Linked DNA regions of Homo sapiens. The protein of the gene in region 3 purifies or fractionates together with the protein of the main gene of each other region. This does not show direct contact. Each region holds a gene or a part of one and is shown on either strand. Other genes may lie near its edges. The genes, in order: ATL2, SLC25A23, SLC22A6 and SFXN5.

What was found.
Region 1: the proteins of SLC22A6 (region 3) and ATL2 purify together in Homo sapiens (affinity purification with mass spectrometry; 2 studies listed by BioGRID and IntAct, with this or other methods). This does not show direct contact.
Region 2: the proteins of SLC22A6 (region 3) and SLC25A23 purify together in Homo sapiens (affinity purification with mass spectrometry; 2 studies listed by BioGRID and IntAct, with this or other methods). This does not show direct contact.
Region 4: the proteins of SLC22A6 (region 3) and SFXN5 purify together in Homo sapiens (affinity purification with mass spectrometry; 2 studies listed by BioGRID and IntAct, with this or other methods). This does not show direct contact.

The regions. Positions count from the first base shown.
Region 1 is NC_000002.12:38,293,441-38,297,298, forward strand, and holds the end of ATL2 (atlastin-2), read right to left. Parts: intron 3,261-3,858; coding exon of another isoform or gene 3,246-3,260; intron 3,151-3,245; coding exon of another isoform or gene 3,043-3,150; exon of another isoform or gene 2,674-3,042; coding exon 2,554-2,673; 3' UTR 514-2,553; downstream 1-513. UniProt on the Homo sapiens protein: Atlastin-2 (ATL2) is a membrane-anchored GTPase that mediates the GTP-dependent fusion of endoplasmic reticulum (ER) membranes, maintaining the continuous ER network. It facilitates the formation of three-way junctions where ER tubules intersect.
Region 2 is NC_000019.10:6,442,760-6,449,797, forward strand, and holds part of SLC25A23 (mitochondrial adenyl nucleotide antiporter SLC25A23), read right to left. Parts: intron 1,543-7,038; coding exon 1,392-1,542; intron 1-1,391. UniProt on the Homo sapiens protein: Electroneutral antiporter that mediates the transport of adenine nucleotides through the inner mitochondrial membrane. Originally identified as an ATP-magnesium/inorganic phosphate antiporter, it also acts as a broad specificity adenyl nucleotide antiporter.
Region 3 is NC_000011.10:62,976,093-62,982,001, forward strand, and holds the end of SLC22A6 (solute carrier family 22 member 6), read right to left. Parts: coding exon 5,750-5,909; intron 5,292-5,749; coding exon 5,168-5,291; intron 5,012-5,167; coding exon of another isoform or gene 5,009-5,011; coding exon 4,893-5,008; intron 3,857-4,892; coding exon 3,642-3,856; intron 3,505-3,641; coding exon 3,396-3,504; intron 1,296-3,395; coding exon 1,092-1,295; coding exon of another isoform or gene 1,053-1,091; intron 790-1,052; coding exon 702-789; 3' UTR 505-701; downstream 1-504. UniProt on the Homo sapiens protein: Secondary active transporter that functions as a Na(+)-independent organic anion (OA)/dicarboxylate antiporter where the uptake of one molecule of OA into the cell is coupled with an efflux of one molecule of intracellular dicarboxylate such as 2-oxoglutarate or glutarate.
Region 4 is NC_000002.12:73,061,675-73,068,712, forward strand, and holds part of SFXN5 (sideroflexin-5), read right to left. Parts: intron 1-7,038. UniProt on the Homo sapiens protein: Mitochondrial amino-acid transporter. Transports citrate. Does not act as a serine transporter: not able to mediate transport of serine into mitochondria.

The DNA.
Region 1 (3,858 bases), on a different chromosome or scaffold from region 3:
GTACATTAAGGGCAGCTCAATTCCTCGGTCTAACTTCCAGCAAAATGTAAATCTGAAAGACAGGAGTTCCTAGGATCTAAGACTTCAGTAGAGAAGGTAAGGGAGCAATTCTCTGTGCTGCCTGGGAAACCCCCAATCTAGCTTTGACAGGAACCAATAACTGGAAGACTCCCCAAAGTCGCATTCTCTTTATGGCAGAGGCTCCCAACAGAATCCAAGTACAATAGTCATTTGATGAGTAATCTCTGGCCAAGTGAGAAGATGGCTACCAGATGCACAGCAACTCAAGCTAATTTTCATCCTCACTCCACGACTATCACACGAATGGAAAAAACCTGAGATGCGCAGATCCATTCTGGTCAAGTTAGAGGAAAGGAGGGAATCCAGGACATGAATGTTTAGGCTAAAGCTTAAAAGTGTGAAATGGACTTAAATCCTGTAGAGAATTGTCTTCTTTGAGTAAAGCACTCTTTTCTGACAAGAAATGTAAGAAAGCCAATGGTCTAGATTTTATAACTTTTTAAAAGTAAGCTGTCTTTAATTTCAGAAAATCTGCTATTATACAACAAATTATTTTTTCATTCATAAAAAACAGTCCACAGCATTCATAAAACAGGGTGGCAGAAGAAATAAAAAGACACTTTTCAGGTGGATTCTTTAAGAACAGATAAGTTAGCAATTTAATACAGATGAAAACAAATACAATCCATATAAAAACAGAATCTGAATGGGAGTGGGAGCGAAGATGTATCAACCAAAGTAAATTCAGAGTTTTCACACATGCAACTCAACACCTGCATTCTCTTCGCTTAAAAAGCAAACTAAGGGCCGGGCGCGGTGGCTCACGCCTGTAATCCCAACACTTTGGGAGGCCAAGGCAGGCGGATCACAAGGTCAGGCGATTGAGACCATCCTGGCTAAAACGGTGAAACCCCATCTCTACTTAAAATAGAAAACATTAGCCGGGAATGGTGGCACGCACCTGTAGTCCCAGCTACTCAGGAGGCTGAGGCGGGAGAATCACTTGAACCCAGGAGGTGGAGGTTGCAGTGAGCCAAGATCGCACCACTGCACTCCAGCCTGGGTGACAGAGAGAGACTCCGTCTCAAAAAAGAAACAAACAAAACTAGGTACTTTAATCGGTGTTCACAAAGAAGACCACAAAAGTACTGAAAAAATGCTAGCCTTACATATACCACCAAAAAAAAAAAAAGAGAGAGAAAGAAATTAACAATCCCCATCTACAACTAGGCTAATCATAGGTTTTCCCTTATAGAGACAGACACAGAAAAGTAACTTTTTACAAGCTTAGTTTTGAGGTACAATGCCTTAGAGCTCTCAACTGGGGTGTTTCCTGCTCATGCTCTTTTCACTATAAACAAATGTGGTTTATGAAGTGGAATACATACTTGAAAAATTCCTTAAAAAAGAATCACAAGTTTCATTTTATATATACAACAAATTTTTAATTATGTACTGAAAATAAATTACAGGAAATAACTTTAAAATGCAACAGAGGACAAAGTCACAATAAACATTCCCATTGAATTCCCTTGGTGGGCGGGGGGGGGGTGAGATTGCAGTGCTCAAGATAAATATCACAAATATATCAAAAACTTCAAATTGTCTATGCATTCACACACTGACATGAGCCACAAACATTCCTTTCACAGGGACAGTACTTATTTAGCCTACCACAGGACCAGATTTTGCCATAAACTACAAAACTTTTAATACAAAATCGTATTTATATATTTATAAGTCATATACATGCCCTATCTGTGATTTTAGAAAATAAAAGCTACACACTGTACAGACACTCTTAACTCATAGCTGTAGGCAACATTTTTGGATGGAATTTCTTCCCCAATAAAATTAATGGCATATTTTATATACATGAAGGCTAAACTGCAAAAAGACAGTTCAGTTTCCCAGATATGCATCTCCTTTTAGGGCAAGTTTATAAATTTAAAAAGGCAAGACAAATGTACACCTCAGAATTACTTTCTTAGCTACAAGAGTTGCCATGTAATTTCTGTGAAGTTTCTGATACATGCATTGATGTAATACTGGTATTGAAGGCAGTAAAGCAATATATACTTTTAATGTAGTGGCTCAATAAAGGCTTCATTGTCTTTCCAATCTGGTTCTTGAAACAGTGATTCATAAATTCTCTAAAAATTAAAATTTCAATGGGACACTGTGTTAAAGAGACTCTAAATAGATTTCTGAAAATATTTCCCTGAAATATCCTTTTACATAAGACAAATTCACTAACATTAGATTAAGTAAAAAGAAATAAAAGAGTTAAACATGGCACAAAGGTGCATGATTAACCAATGCTCCTCAGTCCATCTGCATGTCTTAGGAGCCATTAAAAGAATGCTTAAAACTAACAAACAATCTTCACACTCTGTGGCAGCCATCTGTGAAGCCAGTTACACTAAACTACTTCTACAGTTGATTGTAAACTTTGGTTTATTTTTATTTGAGTTCTCATTGTACAGCAAGCATGAAAAAAAAAGAGAGTGGAGTCCGTGAGGAGATGAACTGTCAGTCTGTCTTTAATCTGGCATGATGAGACACCTGGTCAGTCAGGCCTGCTTTGATAGAGTTTGTTACAGACTGCCTTATGTTTTCCTCCATCAAATTATCACCCAGGGGCTTCAATACCTGTGGTATGAGAAATGTGCAAAACAAACAAAAACATGAGGTAAAAAAAGAGTTACATATAAAAATAGATATAAAAATTCAATTCAAAGCAATGATGAAAATAACCAGGAATATGGGAAATAAAAAGATGCTTCTCTCAAAAAAACTTATGATGCTACTAGACATTTTATAATGCAACAAAAATTACTTTCCTCTTATTCAAACCATTTACAATTCCTATGAGATGGATGTGCAATTCCATACCCTATATGCAGCATCAAATCTGGTATGTATACAGCATTTATGCAGACCGGCCCAGACGGTCCTGCTTATTGTCCTACATGTGTAAGTGTGAACACTTCAGATAGAGAAAAAGGTTAAAAATACTGTCTAATTTTTCTTCTTGTTATTGTTGGATGACAGTCTCTGTCGCTGTGCTGATGAAAGAGCACGGTGAACCATTCGACGTCTAGTAACTTCAAACAGTTTGGAAAACACCTAAAACATGAAGTGATTTGTTAGGAGAATGAATCAGAGTGCCTCGAAGCTAAAGAGTTTAAGACTACAAGAATTTGAGACTGTAGGTTTCTCACCTTCCTGGGACTCCTCTGAAGCAAAAGAAAAGAGAAATGCAAAGAAATTTAGACAAGGTTTGTTGACACAGCACAGATCTCTGACTAGCTGATTACCTTACCTAAACTATACTGAAAATGATTTTATACACTTTAGATTCTTCCATTTAATTGTTTTGTAATAATGGTACCTCCAAAATCCTAGAATCAATGCTGTTTAAGAGATGAATATTTCTCAAAAGAAGATATTGTACAATTATTGAAAATTATATTGCAGAAAATGATCCAAAATTTTAAAATAGCTAATTTTTTCTTAAAAGTGAAGTTGCGATAGCTTTGCATCCATCTTCTATTAGAAGATATCAAAGAAACATCAAGTAGTGAGATTGAGATAAAAATTTAAATAGAATAAATATCCAAACATAAACTTCCCAATCGGATCTGAATAGAGCATTTCTCTAAAGAGTAAACACAAAATCCAAATTAATATAGTGGGTCACTTTATAAAATAACATCATTACAAGAAAAGTCAATATCCAATCAACTTTCTTCAAAAAAAATGGTCTGCTTCTTCGGTCTTCAAGTTTATAGCCAAAACAAACATGGACCTGCATATCCTAGATCTTCAAAATAA
Region 2 (7,038 bases), on a different chromosome or scaffold from region 3:
AGGCTGGTCTCCAACTCCCAACCTCAGGTGATCCATCCGCCTCGGCCTCCCAAAGTGCTGGGATTACAGGCGTGAACCACCACACCCGGCCCTTGAACTCTTAACCTCAGGTGATCCGCCCACCTCGGCCTCCCAAAGTGCTGGGATTACAGGCGTGTGCCACCATGCCCAGCCCTTTTTTTTTTTTTTTTTTTTGAGACAGAGTTTTCACTCCTGTTGCCCAGGCTGGAGTGCGATGGCACGAACTTGGCTTACTGCAACCTATGCCTGCTGGGTTCAAGTGATTCTCCTGCCTCAGCCTCTCGAGTAGCTAAGATTACAGGCGCCTGCTATCACACCCGGCTAATTTTTGTATTTTCAGTAGAGACAGGATTTAGCCATGTTGGTCAGGCTAGTCTCGAACTCCTGACCTCAGGTGATCCACCCACCTAGGCCTCCCAAGGTGCTGGGATGGCAGGCGTGAGCCACTACCCCTGGCTCCCACCCACTTTTTTGAGACAGGGTCTCACTCTGTCACCCAGGCTGGAGTGTGGTGGCATAATCATAGCTCACTGCAGCCTCAAGTGATCCTCCGGCCTCAGCCTCCCAAGTAGTTTGGACTACAGGCACCTGCCACCACGCCTGGCTAATTTATTTCTTCATTTTTTAAAAAAAGATGGGGTCTTGCTATGTTGCCCGGGCTGGTCTCAAACTCCTGGACTCAAATGATCCTTCCTCTTTGGCCTCCTAAAGTGCTGGGATTACAGATGTGAGCCACTGTGCCCGGCCTCCTTCTCCCCTTTATACAACCCTAAATCAATACTTAATTCCAGAATGATTTATTTAGCATCTTCCTTCCTCTCCGGCCTGTGAGCTCTATGAGGGTGGGGACCGTGTCCGTCTTGTACACTGACACATCTCCAGTGAAAATCACAAAACACAAACACTAAAATTCTCAAGAAAATTCTCAAAACAGATTCAGGGAGAATGGGAGGGTAGTGGTGGAGGGGACGGGGGGAAATAATTCATAAAAGAAAAATACAGACAAAAACAATAACCACTCTGGCCCTGACTGCTCCCTACCCCTGTTCCTAGCCTCCCGCTCACGATAACCCAGGCTTACAAATTAAGAGTTCAAGTTACCAGCCTGGAAATGCTAGACATTTGCCAGCAACGACATCCCAGCTAAGTCTGCAAGGGATCTCTTCCTGTACCCACTGCACCTGTTATCCTAGTTAATCCTCAGCTCCATGAAAGTAAAGGACTCCCATTTCAATGTCACAAATGGGGAAACGGAGGCCCAGAGAAGCCCATCGAAATCCAGGAGGGTCCCAGCCCAGGGCTCTACTTGGGAGAAGCTGGGGCCCAAGCGATGAGACTCCCCCTGCCCCATCCTCCCGCCCAGGCCTCACCTTGTGCCTGCATGCGGGTCCGGACCAGGGCCAGCGGGTAACTGGCTATCTGGCCGCAGGTGCTGGATATGGTACCGCAGGCCAGGAGCACGAGGATGCCTGGGTCTGCCGAGTCGTGGCTGTACTGCTGAAGCCACCAGTTCTTCAGAGTCTGGAGTGGAGAAGGGAGTAGGGAGGGTTGGGGTGGGTGACCCTAGGACCCTGGCTTCAAAGGCCTGCTGGCCGGTTCTGTATCCCATGACAGGTGCTACTAGCTGAGCACTTGGTACCTCCTAGGGGCCGGGCCAGCCCTTTCCCTGCGTCCCCTCACCCAGTCCTCATCTGGACCCTCTCTGGTAGGTGGAATAAGGGTCCCCTGTACTGACTATGCCCTAATCTCTGGAACCTCTGCATATGTTACCCAAGATGACACAAAGGACTTTGCAGATGGGATTCAGTTAAGGATCTTGAGATGAGATTATTTTGGATTATCTGAGTGGCCCAATGCCATCACAAGGGTCCTTCTTTTTTTAAAAATTATTATTATTATTATTTTGAGATGAAGTCTTGCTCTGTTGCCCAGGCTGGAGTGCAGTGGTGTGATCTTGGCTCACTGCAATCTCCACCTCCCTGGTTCAAGCGATTCTCTTGCCTCAGCCTCCCGGGTAGCTGGGAATACAGGTGCGTGCCACCACACCTGGCTAATTTTTTGTATTTTTAGTAGAGACAGGGTTTCACCGTGCTGGCCAGGATGGTCTCAATCTCCTGACCTTGTGATCCGCCTGCCTCAGCCTCTCAAAGTGCTGGGATTACAGGAATGAGCCACAGTACCTGGCCTAATTATTTTTCTTTTTACAGAGATGGAGTGTCACTATGTTGCTCAGGCTGGTCTCGAACTCCTGGGCTCAAGCGATCCTTCCCCCTCGGCCTCCCAAAGTGCTGGGATTACAGGCATGAGCCACCATGCCTGGCACAAGGCCCCTTCTTTTTTTTTTCAGAGACGGAGTTTCGTTCTCGTTGCCCAGGCAGGAGTGCAATGGTGCAATCTCGGCTGACTGCAACCTCCGCCTCCTGGCTTCAAGCGATTCTCCTGCCTCAGCCTCGAAGTAGCTAGGATTACAAGCGTGTGCCATCACGCCCAGCTAATTTTTGTATTATTAGTAGAGATGGGGTTTCACCATGTTGGCCAGAGTGGTCTCAAACTCCTGACTTCAGGTGATCCACCTGCCTCGGTCTCCCAAAGTGCTGGGATTACAAGCATGAGTCACCATGCCCGGCACAAGGGCCCTTCTAAGAGTTAGAAAAGTAGGTGTAAAGACAGAAGCAGAAGCGAGAGAGAGATTGGAAGATGCTATGCTACTGGCTTTGAAGATGGAAGAAGGGACCACAAGCCAAGGAGTGCAGGCGGCCTCTAGAAGCTTTTTCAAGGCAACGAAACAGATTTCCTCCTGGAGCATCCAGAAGGAACGCAGCCCTGCCAACATCTCGATTTTATAAAGCCCAGTAAGAACCCCATTTTGGATTTCTGACCTCCAGAACTGTAAGGATATACATTCGTGTTGTTCTAAGACACTAAGTTTATAACTTGTTTGCTTGCAAGAAGGGTAAAGAATAAATTAAAAACAGCAACAGCAACAAAAGGCCAGGCATGGTGACTCACGCCTGTAATCCCAGCACTTTGGGAGGCCGAGGCAAGAGGATCGTTTGAGCCCAGGAGCCTGAGACCAGCCTCGGAAACATAGCAAGACTCTGTCTCTACAAAAACAAACAAACACACAAACAAACAAACAAACAAAAAAAAACTGGATGTGATGGTGCATGCCTGTGGTCCCAGCTACTCAAGAGGCTGAAGTGGGAGGATTGCTTGAACCCAGGAATTCAAGGCTGTAGTGAGCCGTGATGCACTCCAGCCTGGGCGACAAGAGTGAGACTCAGTATCAAAAAGAAAAAAGGTCGGGCCTGGCGTCCTCACACTGGTAATCCCAGTGCTTTGGGAGGCTGAGATGGGTGGATCACTTGAGGTCAGGAGTTCGAGACCAGCCTGGCCAATATGGCGAAACTCCATCTCTACTAAAAATACCAAAATTAGCCGGTGTGGTGGCAGGCACCTGTAATCCCAGCTACTCAGGAAGCTGAGGCAGGAGAATCGCCTGAACCGGGGAGGCGGAGGTTGCAGCGAGGCAAGATCACACCACTGCACTCCAGCCTGGGCAATAAGAGCAAGACTGTCTCAAAAACAAACAAATGAACAAAAAAACACTCTCCAACGACACTGCCTGTGGTAGATGCTGTGAGTACACCACCTTCATCCCTTCCCACTCCAATTCAGACCTGCTGACTTCTTACTGCCAACATTTACCCAAAGACTTTGCTTGTGGACTTTCTCTGAACGCAGGCCAGCCGGCTCTGACCACTTAGGAATGGGCAGAAAGCCCTGGGAAATTAGCATCTCCAGATGCAACCTTCAAAAGACTGACCTGGTGGATCAATACCCCAGCTCCCTCATCTCTCTGGTGCAGCATGTCTTATGCTGCCTCCCACAGATCTCTAGAGGGCTGGAACTCCATTTGCTAGGAATAGTAACTTGCTTGATAACATACTGTTACGGGTTGAATCATGTCCCTCCTTTGGGGGGGAACATGTTGATGTCCTAACCCCCAGTATCTTAGAAGGTGACATTCTTTGGAAATAGGGTCTTTGCAGATCTAATTAGTTAAGATGAGTAGGGTAACAGGGTAGACCCTTAGTCCAGTATGACTGGTGTCCGTAGAGGAGAAAGACAGAGACACACACGGAGAAAGACAGCCAGGTGACAGCGGAGGCAGAGATTTGAGTGAATGTATCTACAAGCCAAAGAATGTCCAGGGTTGCTGGGAACAAGCAGAAACTGAAAGAAGGAAGGAAGGAAGGATTCTCCCCTAACAAGTTTGAGAGGGAGTATGGCTCTGCTGACACCTTGATTTTGCACTTCTGGCCTCTGGAACTGTGAGACAATAACTTTCTGTTGTTTTAAGCCAACCAGTTTGTGATACTTTGTTACAGCAGTCCTAGGAAACTAACATACTCATACTGTGTGCATTGACTCCCTGTCTCATTACCTCCCCAATAAATCACTTGTCCTCACGTCCCAGTTTCAGGGTCTGTTTTGGAAGGATCTCAAACTAAGACCAAAACTATTATTATTATTATTGAGACAGGGTCTCGCTCTCACACCCAGGCTGGAGTGCAGTGGTGAAATCTCGGCTCACTGCAACCTCCGCCTCCTGGGCTCAGGTGATCCTCCCTACTTCAACCTCTGGAGTAGCCAGGATTACAGCTGTGCACCACCACACCCGGCTAATTATCTTTATTTTTATTTTATTATTATTTTTTGAGACACAGTCTCACCCTGTCGCCTGGGTTGGAGTGCAATGGCACCATCTCGGCTCACTGCAACCCCACCTCCCAGGTTCAAGTGATTCTCCTGCATCAGCCTCCTGTGTAGCTGGGATTACAGGCTTATGCCACCGGGATTACAGGCATGTGCCACCAGGCTTGGCTAATTTTTTGCTTTTTTTTTGAGACGGAGTCTCGTTCTGTCGCCCAGGCTGGAGTGCAGCGGCACAATCTCAGCTCACTGCAACCTCCACCTCCCGGGTTCAAGAAATTCTCCTGTCTTAGCCTCCCAGGTAGCTGGGATTGCAGGCACACACAATCACACCCGGCTGATTTTTGTATTTTTAGTAAAGACAGGGTTTAACCATGTTGGCCAGGCTGGTCTCCAACTCCTGACCTCAAGTGATCTGCCTGCCTCTCCCTCCCAAAGTGCTGGGATTACAGGAGTGAGCCACCATGCCCGGCCCTATTATCTCTATTTTATAGAAAAGAAACTGAGGCTCGGGAAGTTACTTGCCCAAAGCTACAAAATAAAGGTGAGAACCAACATTCACAGCTGTATGTGAATCTAGAACTGTGCACCTGAAGACTTTAGGGTGGCTAATCCCTTCTGAAGCCTTCTGCCAAGGTGACTGTAAGAACAAGACCTTCTTTGCTTTGCGGCTGGGAGAGGCTTATAGGTTTCATTTCCTATGCCAATTCTAATCCACCAGAAATTGCTGCCTGAAACTGGAATTGTGTTGAGCAGGACTCAGTGCTGTGATGGATTAGTAATGCCTAGCCCAGGCACAGACTGGGTAAAATAGGCAAGTACTTAACATTATTGCCTTTGAAATTTTAGAAGCCTTCTTTTGGGTCTAGAACAGCACTTGCCAAATAGATGTTTAATGGGTTATTATTAAGATCAATCTGTTGAAAAGAAGTTCTAAAGACGGCCGGGTGTGGTGGCTCATGCCTGTAATCCCAGCATTTTTTTTTTTTTTTGAGATGAAATCTCGCTCTCTCACCCAGGGTGGAGGGCAGTGGCGCGATCTTGGCTCACAGCAAACTCCGCCTCCTGGGTTCAAGCGATTCTCCTGTCTCAGCCTCCCGAGTAGCTGGGATTACAGGTGCCCACCACCACGCCCAGCTATTTTTTGTATTTTTAGTAGAAATGGGGTTTCACCATGTTGGCCAGGATGGTCTTGATCTCTTGATCTTGTGATCCACCCCCCTCAGCCTCCCAAAGTGCTGGGATTACAGGTGTGAGCCACTGCACCTGGCAATTCCAGCATTTTGGGAGGCCGAGGTGGTCGGATCACTTGACGTCAGGAGTTCAAGACCAGCCTGGCCAACATAGTGAAACCCCGTCTCTACTAAAAATACAAAAATTAGCCTGGCGTGGTGGCGCACACCTGTAATCCCAGCTACTCGGCAGGCTGAGGCAGGAGAATTGCTTGAATCTGGGAGGCAGAGGTTGGAGTGAGCTGAGATCACACCACTGCACTCCAGCCTGGGTGACAGAGTGAGACTCTGTCTCAAAAAAAAAGAAAAAAAAAAGTTCTAAAGACTAGATTAATGTGGCCAGCACTGGGTTAAAAACAAAAAAAGTTAAATCACTTTACTGAGAGACTTCTCGGAGCCTTTAAGGGACAAACACAGATTTTGAAACTCCAAGGTTTCTAAAACCTCTTAGACTTTTAAAGTCCCTTTTTGGGTAAAGAATGCATTAAATAATAAGACTGTGTCTTCTTTCTGTCTTTCTTTCTTTCTTTTTTTTTTTTTTTGAGACAGGATCTTGCTCTGTTGCTGAAGCTGGAGTGCATTGGCATGATCACAGCTCACTGAAACCTCTGCGTACTGGGCTCAAGCAATTCTCCCATCTCAGCCTCCTGAGTAGCTGGCACTACAGGTGTGCACCACCACACCTGGCTATTTTTTTTTTTTTTGAGACAGAGTCTTGCTCTGTCACCCAGGCTGGAGTGCAGTGGCACGATCTCAGCTCACTGCAAGCTCCGCTTCCCAGGTTCATGCCATTCTCCTGCCTCAGCCTCCCAAGCAGCTGGGATTACAGGTGCCCGCCACCATGCCTGGCTAATTTTTTGTATTTTTAGTAGAGATGGGGTTTCACCATGTTGGCCAGGATGGTCTCGATCTCTTGACCTTGTGATCCACCCGCCTCGGCCTCCCAAAGTGCTGGGATTACAAGCGTGAGCCACCGTGCCTGGCCACCTGGCTAATTTTTAAATTGTTTTATAGAGACTGGTCTCGAACTCCTGGGCTCAAGCAATCCTCCCACCTCGGCCTCCCAAAG
Region 3 (5,909 bases):
TAAATAGAGGCAGCGTCTCGCTATGTTGCCCAGGCTGGTCTTGAACTCCTGGCTCAAGTGATCCACCCGCCTCGGCCTCCCAACGTGCTGGGATTACAGGTGTGAGCCACCACACCTGGCCAGCTATTGTCCTTTTTCTTCTCCTTTGCTGTCAGAGGTTCCCATCTGCTCTCAGAGTGGGAGGAGCTTGAAACAAAGCCTCTGATTGGCTGCTTTCATTTCAGCCTGTCATTTCAGCCCTTGTCAGTTTCCAGCCTGACAGGGAAGGGAGGAGCATTAGATATTTAGCTAAATCTCACAGAAATATTTGAATAGGTTAGAGGATGGGGGAGGGAAGAGGGAGGGATAGAAAGGGGCAAAGGCAAGAGTCTTTTCTAATTTTCTGGGATGGTTTGTAAAGTCCCGGGGATGGAGTGGGTGGGAGGGGACTGTATGGCCTCTTGGGCTGGAAGCTGACTAAAATGGAGTGGCCATTCCTTTTGAGACAAGAGAGACACAGAGAGATGGTGCGCAGTCAAACCTTTTAATGATGTGGTTCTGGTGGGGTTTATAAAGGGAGGTGGACCCCTGGGAAGATGCTTTCCTGAACCACAACCCCCACACTTGGGTCACCATTTCCTCTTCCTCCTCCTTGTGTGGGTGGCCGGAGACCTGTAGGACCTTCCCTCCCTTTAGGGTTCTGTAAGGCCCCTTCTCAGTCCTCAGAGTCCATTCTTCTCTTGTGCTGAGGCCTGCAGTGGGACCATATACTTCTGGTGCTCTTGTTGCTGTCGCGTCTGTTTCCCTTTCCTGCAGGGCGGCAGAAGAATGGCACTCTGGGTATGCAGCCTCCAGGCCAGGGCCGGGATATGGAGGCTCCCAGGGGGTCTCCGCTCAGCTATGCCTGGACACCTGCTCTCTGCCCCAAATACCTACTGCTCCCTGGAGCTGGGATCCCCAGGAAGGATTCTAGGAGAAGCTCAGGCAATTGGGGACAAAGGGACACAGAGCTTTGGGCTAGAAGAGGAAGCCTGGGCTTGAGTCTCAATACCACCCCACCCTGCATGTGTTACCTGGGATATATCCCTGCTTCTTTCTGAGTGGGGGCCCACCTGCTCTCCAGGTCCTGCACCGTGTCTGGCAGTGGCTGGCCCAGGGTCTCTGGCAGGAGGACAGTGACAGCGCTGGCGGCCACAGGAACAGCACCGTAGATGAAGAGAGGCATGGAGGGGTAGAGCTCGGCAGTCATGCTCACCAGTGGGCTCACGATGCTGCCCACTCGGGCCATGGTGCTGCCCATTCCCATGCCTGTCTGCCTGCAGGGCCCGCAGCAGATGGGTGTTGGTTAGAGTTCCAGCATGAATGCCCAGATGCTGGTCCCATTTGGAGGGTGGCAGCTCAGGCTCAGCCCCCAGGACACTCCCGGTACCTCCTCTCTTCCCCATTTGATTAGCAAACCAATTTGGCGATTTTTTTTTTTCTTGTAGAGATAGGGTCTCTGTGTTGCCAGGGCTGGTCTTAAACTCCTGGGCTCAAATGGTCCTCCCCCACCACAGCTGTTGGTGATCTTTTGAAAAAGAGAAGTTGGAAAGGGTTCTGGCCAGAGAATAAGGAGACTTAAGATTGAATTTTGCCTTTGCCCTTAACTTGCTGTGTGACTTTGGGCAAGCCCCTTTCCCTCCGTGGGCTTCAGTTTCTGCAGCTGTCAAATGATTCAGTTGTGGTACACCTATGGTTCTCAGATCACCTGGAGGAATTGTGTTATAGTTGCAACAAGCCAACATACACCTATTGGATTAGAATCCCTAGGGGGAGGGAGCTGGAATCTGCATGTTAAGAACATTCTTCATGAGAGAAGAGGTTAAAAACATTGACTCAGGAGACATACTGCTTGGGGTTCAAATGCATGCTTCACCATTTGTTAGCTGCATGATCTTGGAGAAGTCACTTAACCTCTCTTTGCCTCAGCTTTCACGTTTGTAAATGGGAATAATGATAGTGCCTACCACAATGGCTTGTTATGCAGATTAAATGAATTAATATTTGTGAAAAGTTTAAGACACTGCCTGGTACATAGTGAGTGCTTCGGATTATTGCTCTTTCATCTGAAATCTGGTAAGGGCACAGGACCATGACCCTCAGGGTTCCACTTTGCAGACCTTACAGGCCCACTCCAAGTAGCCCAGGGAAGCCTGACATTTCTTTGTTATCTCATGTAAATTTTGCATCCCATTCTTGTTTATTTTATTTTATTTTATTTTATTTTATTTTATTTTATTTTATTTTATTTTTTTGAGACAGAGTCTCACTCTCTTGCTGGGGCTGGAGTGCAGTGGCGCGATGTCAGCTTATTGCAACCTCCGCCTCCCAGGTTCAAGCTATTCTCCTGCCTCAGCCTCCTGAGTAGCTGGGACTACAGGTGTGTGCCACTATGCCCAGCTAATTTTTGTATTTTTAGTACAGACGGAGTTTCACCATGTTGGTTAGCCAGGATGGTCTTGCAGGATGGTCTTGATCTCTTTTTTTTTTTTTTTTTTTGAGATGGAGTCTTGCTCTGTCGCCCAGGCTGGAGTGCAGTGGTGCCATCTTGGCTCACTGCAAGCTCCGCCTCCCGGGTTCACGCCATTCTCCTGCCTCAGCCTCCCAAGTAGCTGGGACTACAGGCGCCTGCCACCACGCCTAGCTAATTTTTGTATTTTTAGTAGAGACGGGGTTTCACCTTGTTAGCCAGGATGGTCTCGATCTCCTGACCTCGTGATCTGCCTGCCTCGGCCTCCCAAAGTGCTGGGATTACAGGCGTGAGCCACCGTGCCCGGCCGGTCTTGATCTCTTGACCTTGTGATCCACCTGCCTTGGCCTCCCAAGGTGCTGGGATTACAGGCATGAGCCACCGTGCCGGGCCCCCATTCTTGTTTCTTAATGCAAAAATACTGCCCTCCATCTTAGGACTCAAATAAGCAATACTATATTTATTCCTATTGCTGGGATATTATCAGGAGTGAATCTTGAGATAGGAAATTGCTTTCATGTTTGTGGCCTTTGCTTTCAGATATATCACTTGGTTTATAGATGGAATGTAGATGTGGTGGCAGCTTCTAATTTGTGTTTTGGAGATTAAAGGAAGACTTCAATTTGTTGTCTCTGAGATGTGTCTTCTTGGTTCCTTACCCTGCCCCAGTTGGTGGCTACTTTTGAGATCTTCTAGGGTCCCGTAAGGGCTTAGAGGACAGTAACACCTGTGTTAGCTAGGCCATGAGGTGTGTACTCAGTGGCTACTATGTGCCTTGCAATGATGAGTGTTGGGAGGGGCCTTTGGGCTGGGATGTACTTGATTTAGCTCTGGGGTCTGACCTGTGCACAGAAGAATGTCTTTCCCCAGGAAAAGGCTGTCATTCTCCCATTAGGCTCCCACTCACCGGATCATTGTGGGATACAGTTCCCCAGTATACAGGAAGATGCAGTTGAAGGAGGCAGCCAGACAACCCTTCCCCAGCACAGCAAGAGAGGTTCGGACAATGGACTGGTCTAGAGAGAAAGAAGGGGGGATAGCAGGAGCTTGGGAGTGGAGGCTAGGAGGAATTGGCCCCCTCCCTTCTGAGATATTGGGTTATGTGTGGGGATGGGGCTGAGGAGAAGGGGCCAAGGTGCTCGTGGGTGCTCACCCTGGGGTATCACCCCATTGAGCAGGATGCAGATGCCTGCCAGCAGCAGTGCAGCCATCTGGGCAGGCCGGCGACCCAGGGAGTTGATGACAAGGAAGCCCACAAGCTTGGCAGGCAGGTCCACAGCACCAAAGATCACCTGGATTAGGTAGATGCTGACTCCAAAGCCCTGCAGGTCCATGACCAGCCCATAGTATGCAAAGCTAGTGGCAAACCTAGCAGAGAGAAGAGAGGAGTATGGAGTTTGTTAGGAAGGCTTAAAGTGGGGTGCTCTTTCAAAACAGTGGGGGAACTGCATTGGGTACCCTGCTTAAGGAGCTGGAATCTGCCTTGGCTAATATTTCTTCATTTAACCATATCATTAAACTGCAGAGTTTAAGTATTGAGGTAGTCCTGTAATACTCCAAATTTGCCAATCTTCTGATAACTAGGGTTGCAGTTAATTGGGGGAATTTTCACTTAGTTGCTCTGTAGGATTTACATAGGTTTAGTTTTCATCTTATCAATTGATGCTGGACTGAGGGAGGGCAGGTGCATACCCAAGCCATCTTCAGGGCCAAGGCAGCTGGGAGAGTAGAGAGAGCCTTCTGGGACCTGTCCATGGTCCTGGGATGAGTGTTGTGCTTTTTAAGATGTCAAGAGCCCAAAAAACGAAGCTCAAGATTATTGGCTAGAGCCCATGACTGAGAATAAATCCCAAATTGGAAGCAAATAATTCATTGGCAGGATTGTTCCTTCTGACTATGTTTCCCTTAACTGTCATGGGATTGCTATGGTGATGGGAAGGAAGGATAATGGGGAGTGTTGCAAAGGGAAAGGAAGATTTTCTTTGGCCTTGGCCAAAGTGTTCTTTGGAGATGAGTTTTAGTCATCTTGTTGCCTGTGCCTGTGTTTCTGGCAGGCACCATCAGGCCAGTAAAATCTATGAATATTTTGCAAGCCAGACTGGTCTCTGCCTTCATGATGTAAGTCTATTGACTCTGGAGCCCACTGGTCCTGATGAGGTGTCTCCACATTGGAACAGGGCTAGTGAAAGGACAAGATGGGGAGACTGGTGTCCCGTGTGGAGACTGGGACTGAGTCAAGGCTGGGGGCATCTGGTTCCTAAGGATGATCCCTAGTGTGGGGTTACTGCTTCTCACAGCAGGTCTGCTGACCTTCCTGCCCTCTTCTCTGGCCTCTTTCACCCATTGTGTCTCCTCCTGCCCCAGCCAGCCTTTTGTCTCAGTCTGTCTGTCTTTCTGGGCCTACCACAGCATGGAGAGGCAGAGGAAGAGGTGGCGGAGGGTGGGGCAGCGCAGCAGCTCCATGGCCGATGCCTGGCCTTTGCCCATGGTCAGCTCCTTCTGCAGACTGGCCCGGAGTACCTGCTGGGACCGGCAGAGCTCAGGGCCCGGGATCCTCCCAAGGAGCTCCTCCCAGCCTAATCCCTTACTTAGAGGAGTTCCCTGGGCCCTGGGTCCTGGGTTTGGGGTTTGGGGGTGAAGCCCTGGGAGGTTATCATGGGAAGTCTCAGGGGATCTCACCTCCATACTCAATTTGGCTCCTTCTTCCCGCTTCCCATTGATCCGGGCGACTCTCTGCAGGGCCCTCAGGGTGAGGTCCAGCCTCCCGGAGGAGGAGTGCCAGCGGGCCGACTCAATGAAGAACCTGGGAGCGGGGGTGGGGGTGGGTGTCAGCATGGCTTCAGTTCCAGTCAGCTGGGTGGGGGGCTGGGGCTGGGCTTTCTAGGGGTCTGCGATGGGATTTTATTTAAGGTTGGGAACCCAGGGGCCTTGCCAAATCCCTCTCTCTAGGACCACGAGGCAGTGCCCAGCTTGGTAATGACATATTCCCCAATCCAGAAGCTCAGCTCTTGGTTGCGGGTAGGGGGAGCAGAGCAGGCAGGCTGGAGAACGGAGTGGGGGAAGCCAGAGAATTGGATATCCTGGGGCAAAGCCTTCTCCCCACAGCCTTGGTTTCCCTATCTGTCACACAGAGGCATTGGACTGGGTTTGACCTTCTCTACATTTGTGGGATGGGATGTGTGCTGAGCTCTGGGAGATGTCCTGTCCCTTGCAGCCTCTGGGCTCCTGTGGCAACCACCTCCAACCCTAGGCCCCACGCACCAGGAGTAGATGAAGAAGGCAAAAAAAGGCGCAGAGACCAGTAGCTGCAGGTGGCGCCAGTGGGGCACAGCGTAGGCCACACCAGCCAGGAGGAACTGGCCCAGGCTGTAGACATAGCCAATCAAGGTGCCCACGCAGGCCCGTGTGTGAATGGGCATCC
Region 4 (7,038 bases), on a different chromosome or scaffold from region 3:
ATACTAAAATGCTAATAGAGATTGCCTCTGGGTAATAGGCTTATGTATGATTTATATTTCCAGATCTTTAAATTGCTTTTGAAATTAAAAAAATCAATATTATACCTAATATACAGAAATGATATTACATTTAAAAATACATATTTAGAGTAAAATGCAAGCCAGTCACAGTGGCTTGCTCCTATAATCCCAGCTACTTGGGAGGCTGAAGTGATAGGATCACTTGAGCCCAGGAGTTTGAGATCAGCCTGGGCAACACAGTGAAACCCCATCTCTACAAAAAATTTTAAAAATTAGCCAGGCATGGTGGTATACACCTGTAGTCCCAGCTACTTAGGAGGCTGAGGTAGGAGGACCACTTCAGCCCAGGAGTTCGAGGCTGCAGTGAGCTATGATCATGCCACTGCACTCCAGCCTGGGTGACAGAGTGAGAGCCTGTCTCCAAAAATAAAATAAAGTAAAACATGAACTGATATTTTAAGTATTATACTTGATTAAGAGCTCCTGAAGGACATGGGCTATTGAATGTTCCTTCCTTATCCTCCCTGGCTCGAAGTCTCCTTACATATCTGGAAGGAAGGGTCTTCTGCCACAGGAATCCATGAGTGGGCTGATGAGCAGCCAATGGCCTCAAGGCTTCTGGGTGGGGTAGAGCTGGGCTGGGCTTTGAAGGGAGGGCAGGATTAGGAAAGGGTAACAGTATGGCAGCTAGTGGTCCAAGGAGGAAAGAGGATGAGCAGGGGAAGAGGAGAGAACCTGGAAGTAGAATGGCCTGAGTGAAGCAACTTCTTGAAGATGGTCCAGCAGAAACTTCAGCCTTTGACTTGTCCTATGGTCTGGCACGGTCTTCATCCTGTCCCAGCCCTGCCAGCCTTCTTGTGTCACTTTCGACCATAGCTACTGGGGGAGACTCCCAGATAAGGCATTTTGCTCCACAGACACCTACAAACTCCTAATGAGCTAGGCTCAGGGGACAGACACCAAATGAACAAGCCCTCAAAGAGCTCACAGCCCATCAAAACAGACTAATAACTATAAACAAGTAACTACAAAACACTGATCAGAGTTTAAATGAAGCATCGCGAAGTATACTGGGGACACACAGAGTTCTTCCTATGTCTTCCTAGTTTAAGTCAAGGAGGTGTCCCAGAGGAGCTGGGACCAAGGGATGGATGAGTTTACCTAGCAGAGGAGGGTATATGCAAGAGGATGAAAGCATAAAGCTTAGGATCAGAAGCTGCACCAGACTCCTGTGGTCTCTTCATTCATTCATCATTCAACCCACTACCGAGGATCTACTGTGTGCCCAGCACTGTGCTAGGTCCTGGAGGTAGCAAGGCTGACCGACTGTGGGGAAATGAGGAAGAGCAGCCACAGATGATGCCTCACTTTCTAGTGAGACATGAATGTTTGTTAACCAGAATAGGGACAGGAAGAAGCATACTGATTAAGTGGAAAGAAGATAAAAACTCTGTATTGGTCATATCAGTCTGAGATATTTAAAGGGACTTCCAGATATAATTTTTCAGCAAACATTTGGACTGAGATTCAAGAAAGAGACTCTGAATTGGAAATGTCAGGTACAGATTGCCCTAAGACCCCCACCCCACCCACTATAGAGACAAACCTATAGTCTGACCAAGTCAGATTTACTGACTCACTCAACAAAGAAAAGCACCACAGCAGAGGAATTATGGGGTGCCTTGCCAAACAAAGAAAAATATTTGGTATATAATTTAAGGAAGATAGAGTAAAATGTAAATGAAGCAGTGCTTCAATAGGCTCCAAGCAAAGCAAGACTGTGTGAAAAGGAGTCATCATAGGTCTGGACCAACCACTCAGGGTCTTGTTTCCTTAAAAACTATAAAGTTAAGATTAATGAGAAACGTTGTGACCAGAAACCCCTTATTTGCAGCTATGGGTTGATTCTCCGAGGCAAAGTGACTTAGACCTGCCAATCAAGAGGTAGATGGTTCATTCCTAATGATATGACTTAAACAGCAAAGTTCCTGGCAGTCTAGGACCTTATAGAGTGAGACATGAGTATGAAAGAGGTGGTTACTGGAAGAAGGTTGTTCGATACTTTATAGATCCTGTGGGTCCTCGTGAGAAACATTCTTTCTTTGCAGCTGGCTCTGTGTCTGTCCTCCCTGTCTGATGAATGGCAAGGAAGGTTATACTTTCTCAGTCTCAGTTCATTTTTATTTTCTCAATAGTTCAAAATGTATAGCCTCCCTCCCAAATTCAGCTCCCATCTTTACCCAATCGCACAATCGGTGGATGTTTTTCCTCCCCTTTTTCTTTACTGGAAGAATGAGTCAGCCAAGTGATTCCTTCTCTTTCCCTTCATAAGAAAGGTGAGTCAGCTAATTCTCAGCAGGAGCCAGGGCCTACAGCAGCAGCTGCCTTCCCACCTCCACCAGCCAGCTCTCTCCCATCTGCAAGCCCCCCAGGGAAGAGCAGGCCTTGGGAGCAGCAGCAGAGGGCAAAGATCCCAGAAGAAGCTGACACCGCCCCGCAACTACACACACCAGACCTCCAAATTACTGCTCTTCGATTAGGAATAATATACTCGCTGAACCTACAGCCCAAAGCAGAAAGGCTGGGCCAGCCCAGTAGTCCTGAATCAGCTGCACCCTGAACCACCTGGGTACTTCAAAAACCAGGCCATACACCCAGGGATTCTGATTCTATTGCTCTGGGTGTGGCCTCCAGGCATCAGTGTCTATTTTAAAACCTGCCCAGTGTGACTCTTGGAAATTATGACCCCTCTCCACTGCACAAACCAGCCCAGGAGCAGCACTAGAAAAAACTCACTGTCTCGCCTATAGGAAGTAAATGATTAAAATATATAACCACCTGCAAGGTACTGTGATTTTAGAACTTTATTTCAAGCAAACTATGAGACATATCCCCCCTGCCTCCCAACTCTCAGCCCACACAAATCTCCCAACCTTGAAGTGAAGAAAGCATTTGTCTGCCCAGCAAGCTCTCCATACCCCAGAGGGAGCCCTGTGCAACCAGCCTGCTCTGCCCCACTAGGCCTTGGTCCCCAGCACACTCATACCCCCAGTCATCTCAGCAGATAAGTGAGACTTCCAAAGGAGCAAGGAATTTTTGTTTTATTTTTGAGACACAGTCTCACTTTGTCACCCAGGCTGGAGTGCAGTGGCACGATCATAGCTCACTACAACCTCCACTTCCTGGACTCGGGTGATTCTCCCACCTCACCCTCTAGAGTGGCTGGGACTACAAGCATGTGTCACCACACCTGGATAATTTTTATATTTTTTGTAGAGACGGGGTTTCGCCATGTTGCCTGGACTGGTCTCAAACTTCTGGGATCAAGCAATCTGCCCACCTTGGCCTCTCAAAGTGCTGGCATTACAAGCATGAGCCACCACACCTCGCCAGAAGTTGTTAAAAAACTTCTTCCCTTCTTTCTGAGACAGGGTCTCACTCTGTTGCCCAGCTGGAGTGCAGTTGTGTGATCATAGCTCACTGCAGCCTCAGACTTCTGGACTCAAGGGATCCTCCTGCCCCAGCCTCCCAAGTAGCTGGGACTACAGGTGCATGCTACCACGCCGAGCTAGTTTTTCAATTTTTTGTAGACATGGGGTCTCACTATGTTGTCCAGGCTGGTCTCAAGCTCCTGGCCTCAAGCAATCCTCCTGCCTTGGCCTCTCGAAGTGCTGGGATTACAGGCATGAGCCAACTGCACCTGGACAACAATTTTTTTTTTTGAGATAGAGTTTCGCTCTTGTTGCCCAGGCTGGAGTGCAATGGTGCAATCTCGGCTCACTGCAACCTCTGCCTCCCGGGTTCAAGCAATTCTCCTGCTTCAGTCCTGAGTAGCTGGGATTATAGGCGCCTGCCACCATGCTCACATAATTTTTGTATTTTGTAGAGACAGGGTTTTGCCATGTTGGCCAGGCTGGTCTTGAACTCCTGACCTCAAGTGATCTGCCCGCCTTGGCCTCCCAGAGTGCTGGGATTACAGGCATGAGTCACTGTGCCTGGCCATGTGGGGGAATCTTGAAGGGCTATTTTTTGTATTTTTTAGTAGAGACAGGTTTCACCATGTTGGCCAGGCTGATCTCGAACTCCTGTCATCAAGTGATCTGCCCGCCTTAGCCTCCCAAAGTGCTGGGATTACAAGCATGAGCCACCGCGCCTGGTCCTGGACAACAATTTATTTACAGATGGACTGAAACACAAATGGGAGAAAGTATGTGTGTTTGTTTCCTGTCCTGGGGCCCCAACATGGCAAACATGGTGTCTGGGCCGGAAGGAAAAACAGTGAGTTCAGGAGAGGAAATGACCAGAAAAGGAAGAGGAAAGGAAGCAAAGCAGGTCTCAGAGGTTCCCTGGGTGCTGTGCTGTCATCTCCTCCCTTTCACTAGGCAGCTGGAGTAGTGGTTAAATGCATAGACTTTAAGTTTACAGGAGAAACAAGGGATAAAGGAACATGCTAACCACTACCACAGAGATGCCATCAGCAACATTGAGAAGGTGGGGAATTCTACAGGGACGAACAACTGCTTCTTCAATAGGAAGGGAAAAAAGGAAGACAGAACTAACAGATTAAAAGATACAAAAGAGGCCGGGTGTGGTAGCTCACGCCTGTAACCCCAGCACTTTGGGAGGCCGAGGCGGGTGGATCACCTGAGGTCAGGAGTTTGAGACCAGCCTGGCCAACATGGTGAAACCCCATCTCTACTAAAAATACAAAAATTAGCAAGGCATGGTGGCATGCGCCCGTAATCCCAGCTACTCAGGAGGCTAAGGCAGGAGAATCACTTGAACCCGGGAGGCGGAGGTTGCAGTGAGCTGACATCATGCCACTGCACTCCAGCCTGGGCGACAGAGAGAGACTCTGTCTCCAAAAAAAAAAAATAAAAGATACAAAAGAGAAATACCCAAAGGTAATAATATGTGGGACTTATGGGATCCTGATTCAAACAAATCAACTACAAATAAATTAAGTGATGGTCAGGGAAATATGAATAGCGACTGGTTACTTGATGATATTAAGAATTAATGGGCCAGGCATGGTGGCTCATGCCTGTAAATCCCAGCACTTTGGGAGGGCCAGGCAGAACAATCATTAGAGGCCAGGGGTTTGATACCAGCCTCAGCAAAATAGCAAGACACCTGTCTCTACAAAAAAAAAGAAAAGAAAAGAAAAAACAGAAAGAAAACAAACAAACAAAAAATACATATAGCCACGCATGGTGGCACACCCCTGTAGTTCCAGCTACTCTGGAGGTAGAGGCCAGAGGATTGCTTGAGCCCAGGCGCTCAAGGCTGCAGTGAGCCATTAATTACTGTTCCACTGTACTCTATTGTGGGTGACAGACAGAAACCCTGTCTCTAAAAAAAAAGAAAAAACAAATAATGATTTTAGGTGTGTTAAGGACATGGTTATGTTAAACAAATCAAAAAACCCTCCAATATCATGTGATAAAGAGAGCATTTCACCTCTGTGATATTCTTACCTCAAAACCCAAAAGAAAGACATTAGGCAACCCAAGTTGAGGGACACTCTATAAAATATCTTCCAAAATTGTCAAGGTCATCAAAAACAAGCAAAGTCTGAGAAACTATCCCAGGTACTATGACTGCCGCAGACCAGAGGAGGCTAAAGAGACATGATGACTAAATGTAACATGTTCCTGGATGGGATCCTGGGACAGAAAGGAGACATTAGTGTAAAAAAAAGTAGTAAAATTCAATGAAGTCTGGAGTGTAGTTAACGATAATGTACCAATGTTAGTTTCTTAGTTTTGAAAAATGTACTGTGGCAATGCAAGATGATAACAGAGGACAATGGGTGAGGGCTAGGCAGGAATTGTTTGTTGTCTTTTGACTTCTCTAAAATTATTCCAAAATAAAAAAATTTTTAAAAAGCTAACCAAAGAGTCCTTATTTTTTAGAGATACCTACTAGTGGGTTCAATGAAATGATGGGATGTTTGGCCTTTGCTTCAGAGTAATTCATTGATTGGGTTGTGGGGGGTGGGTGCATAGATGAAACAAGGCCGGCTTTAAGTTGGCAACTGTTGAAGCTGGATGATGGGTGCATAGGGGTTTACTGACAACTGTCTCCAGATTAGTATGTTTGTAAACTTCCATAATAAAAAGTTGACAACAAACCAACAAACAAACATGAACTCTGGAGACAGACTGCCTGGGAATTTACTTAATCTGTTTGTGTGCTGTAGTTTTCTTACCCATAAATTGGAGATCATTGCACCTGCTTCACAGGGTTGTTGTGAAAATTCAGTAAGTCAATACACAAAAAGGCTGGAATGATGCTTGGCTATCGTCACCATCTTATGGGGAGAAAGATGGTCACAGACCACCAACACTCATCACCCTTTCTTCACACTCTGACCCTCCACACCCTCCACCCTCTTTCTGCCCGTCCTCTTGCACAGGGAGACACTTGAGGGAATAAAGAGGAGTTCTAGAGCGACTCCAGGGAATAAGGAAAGACCTTGGTAACAAATCCTGCAGAAAGCGGTGAGATTAATTGGGGAATAAGGGTCATGTCCCTGGCATGGGTGCTGGGAATGAACCCTGGATTATCAACCACCTTGAAGCAGGCTTCTGTCAGGCCAGCACAAGGTACTATGAGCATATATATTACACAACTATTACATGCCAGGGCAGGACACAGAGATGTGGGCTGGGCCCTAAAGGAGCTCATCAACCCAGTACATATGTAGCCAACCTTTGTGTCTTTAGACTCACCTCCTTAGAGACACCCCAACTCTGGGATGTCTCAGCACTGATGAACCTTACACTGTCAAACATGACACCACTTGCAATTTTGTAAGATCCCTAAGGGACAATTTGGAGAAAAGTTGGTCCACCTCCCCAGTCACAACCTTACAAGTCAATTTAATTCAAGTCCGCAAAGCCCTACTGAATTGTCTCCAGGATATTCATGTATATAACAAATCTTCATTAAGCACCTCTTAACTGCCAGGCACTGTGCTGAGCCTTGGAGAGTCAACAGGGAGTAAAGACAGGC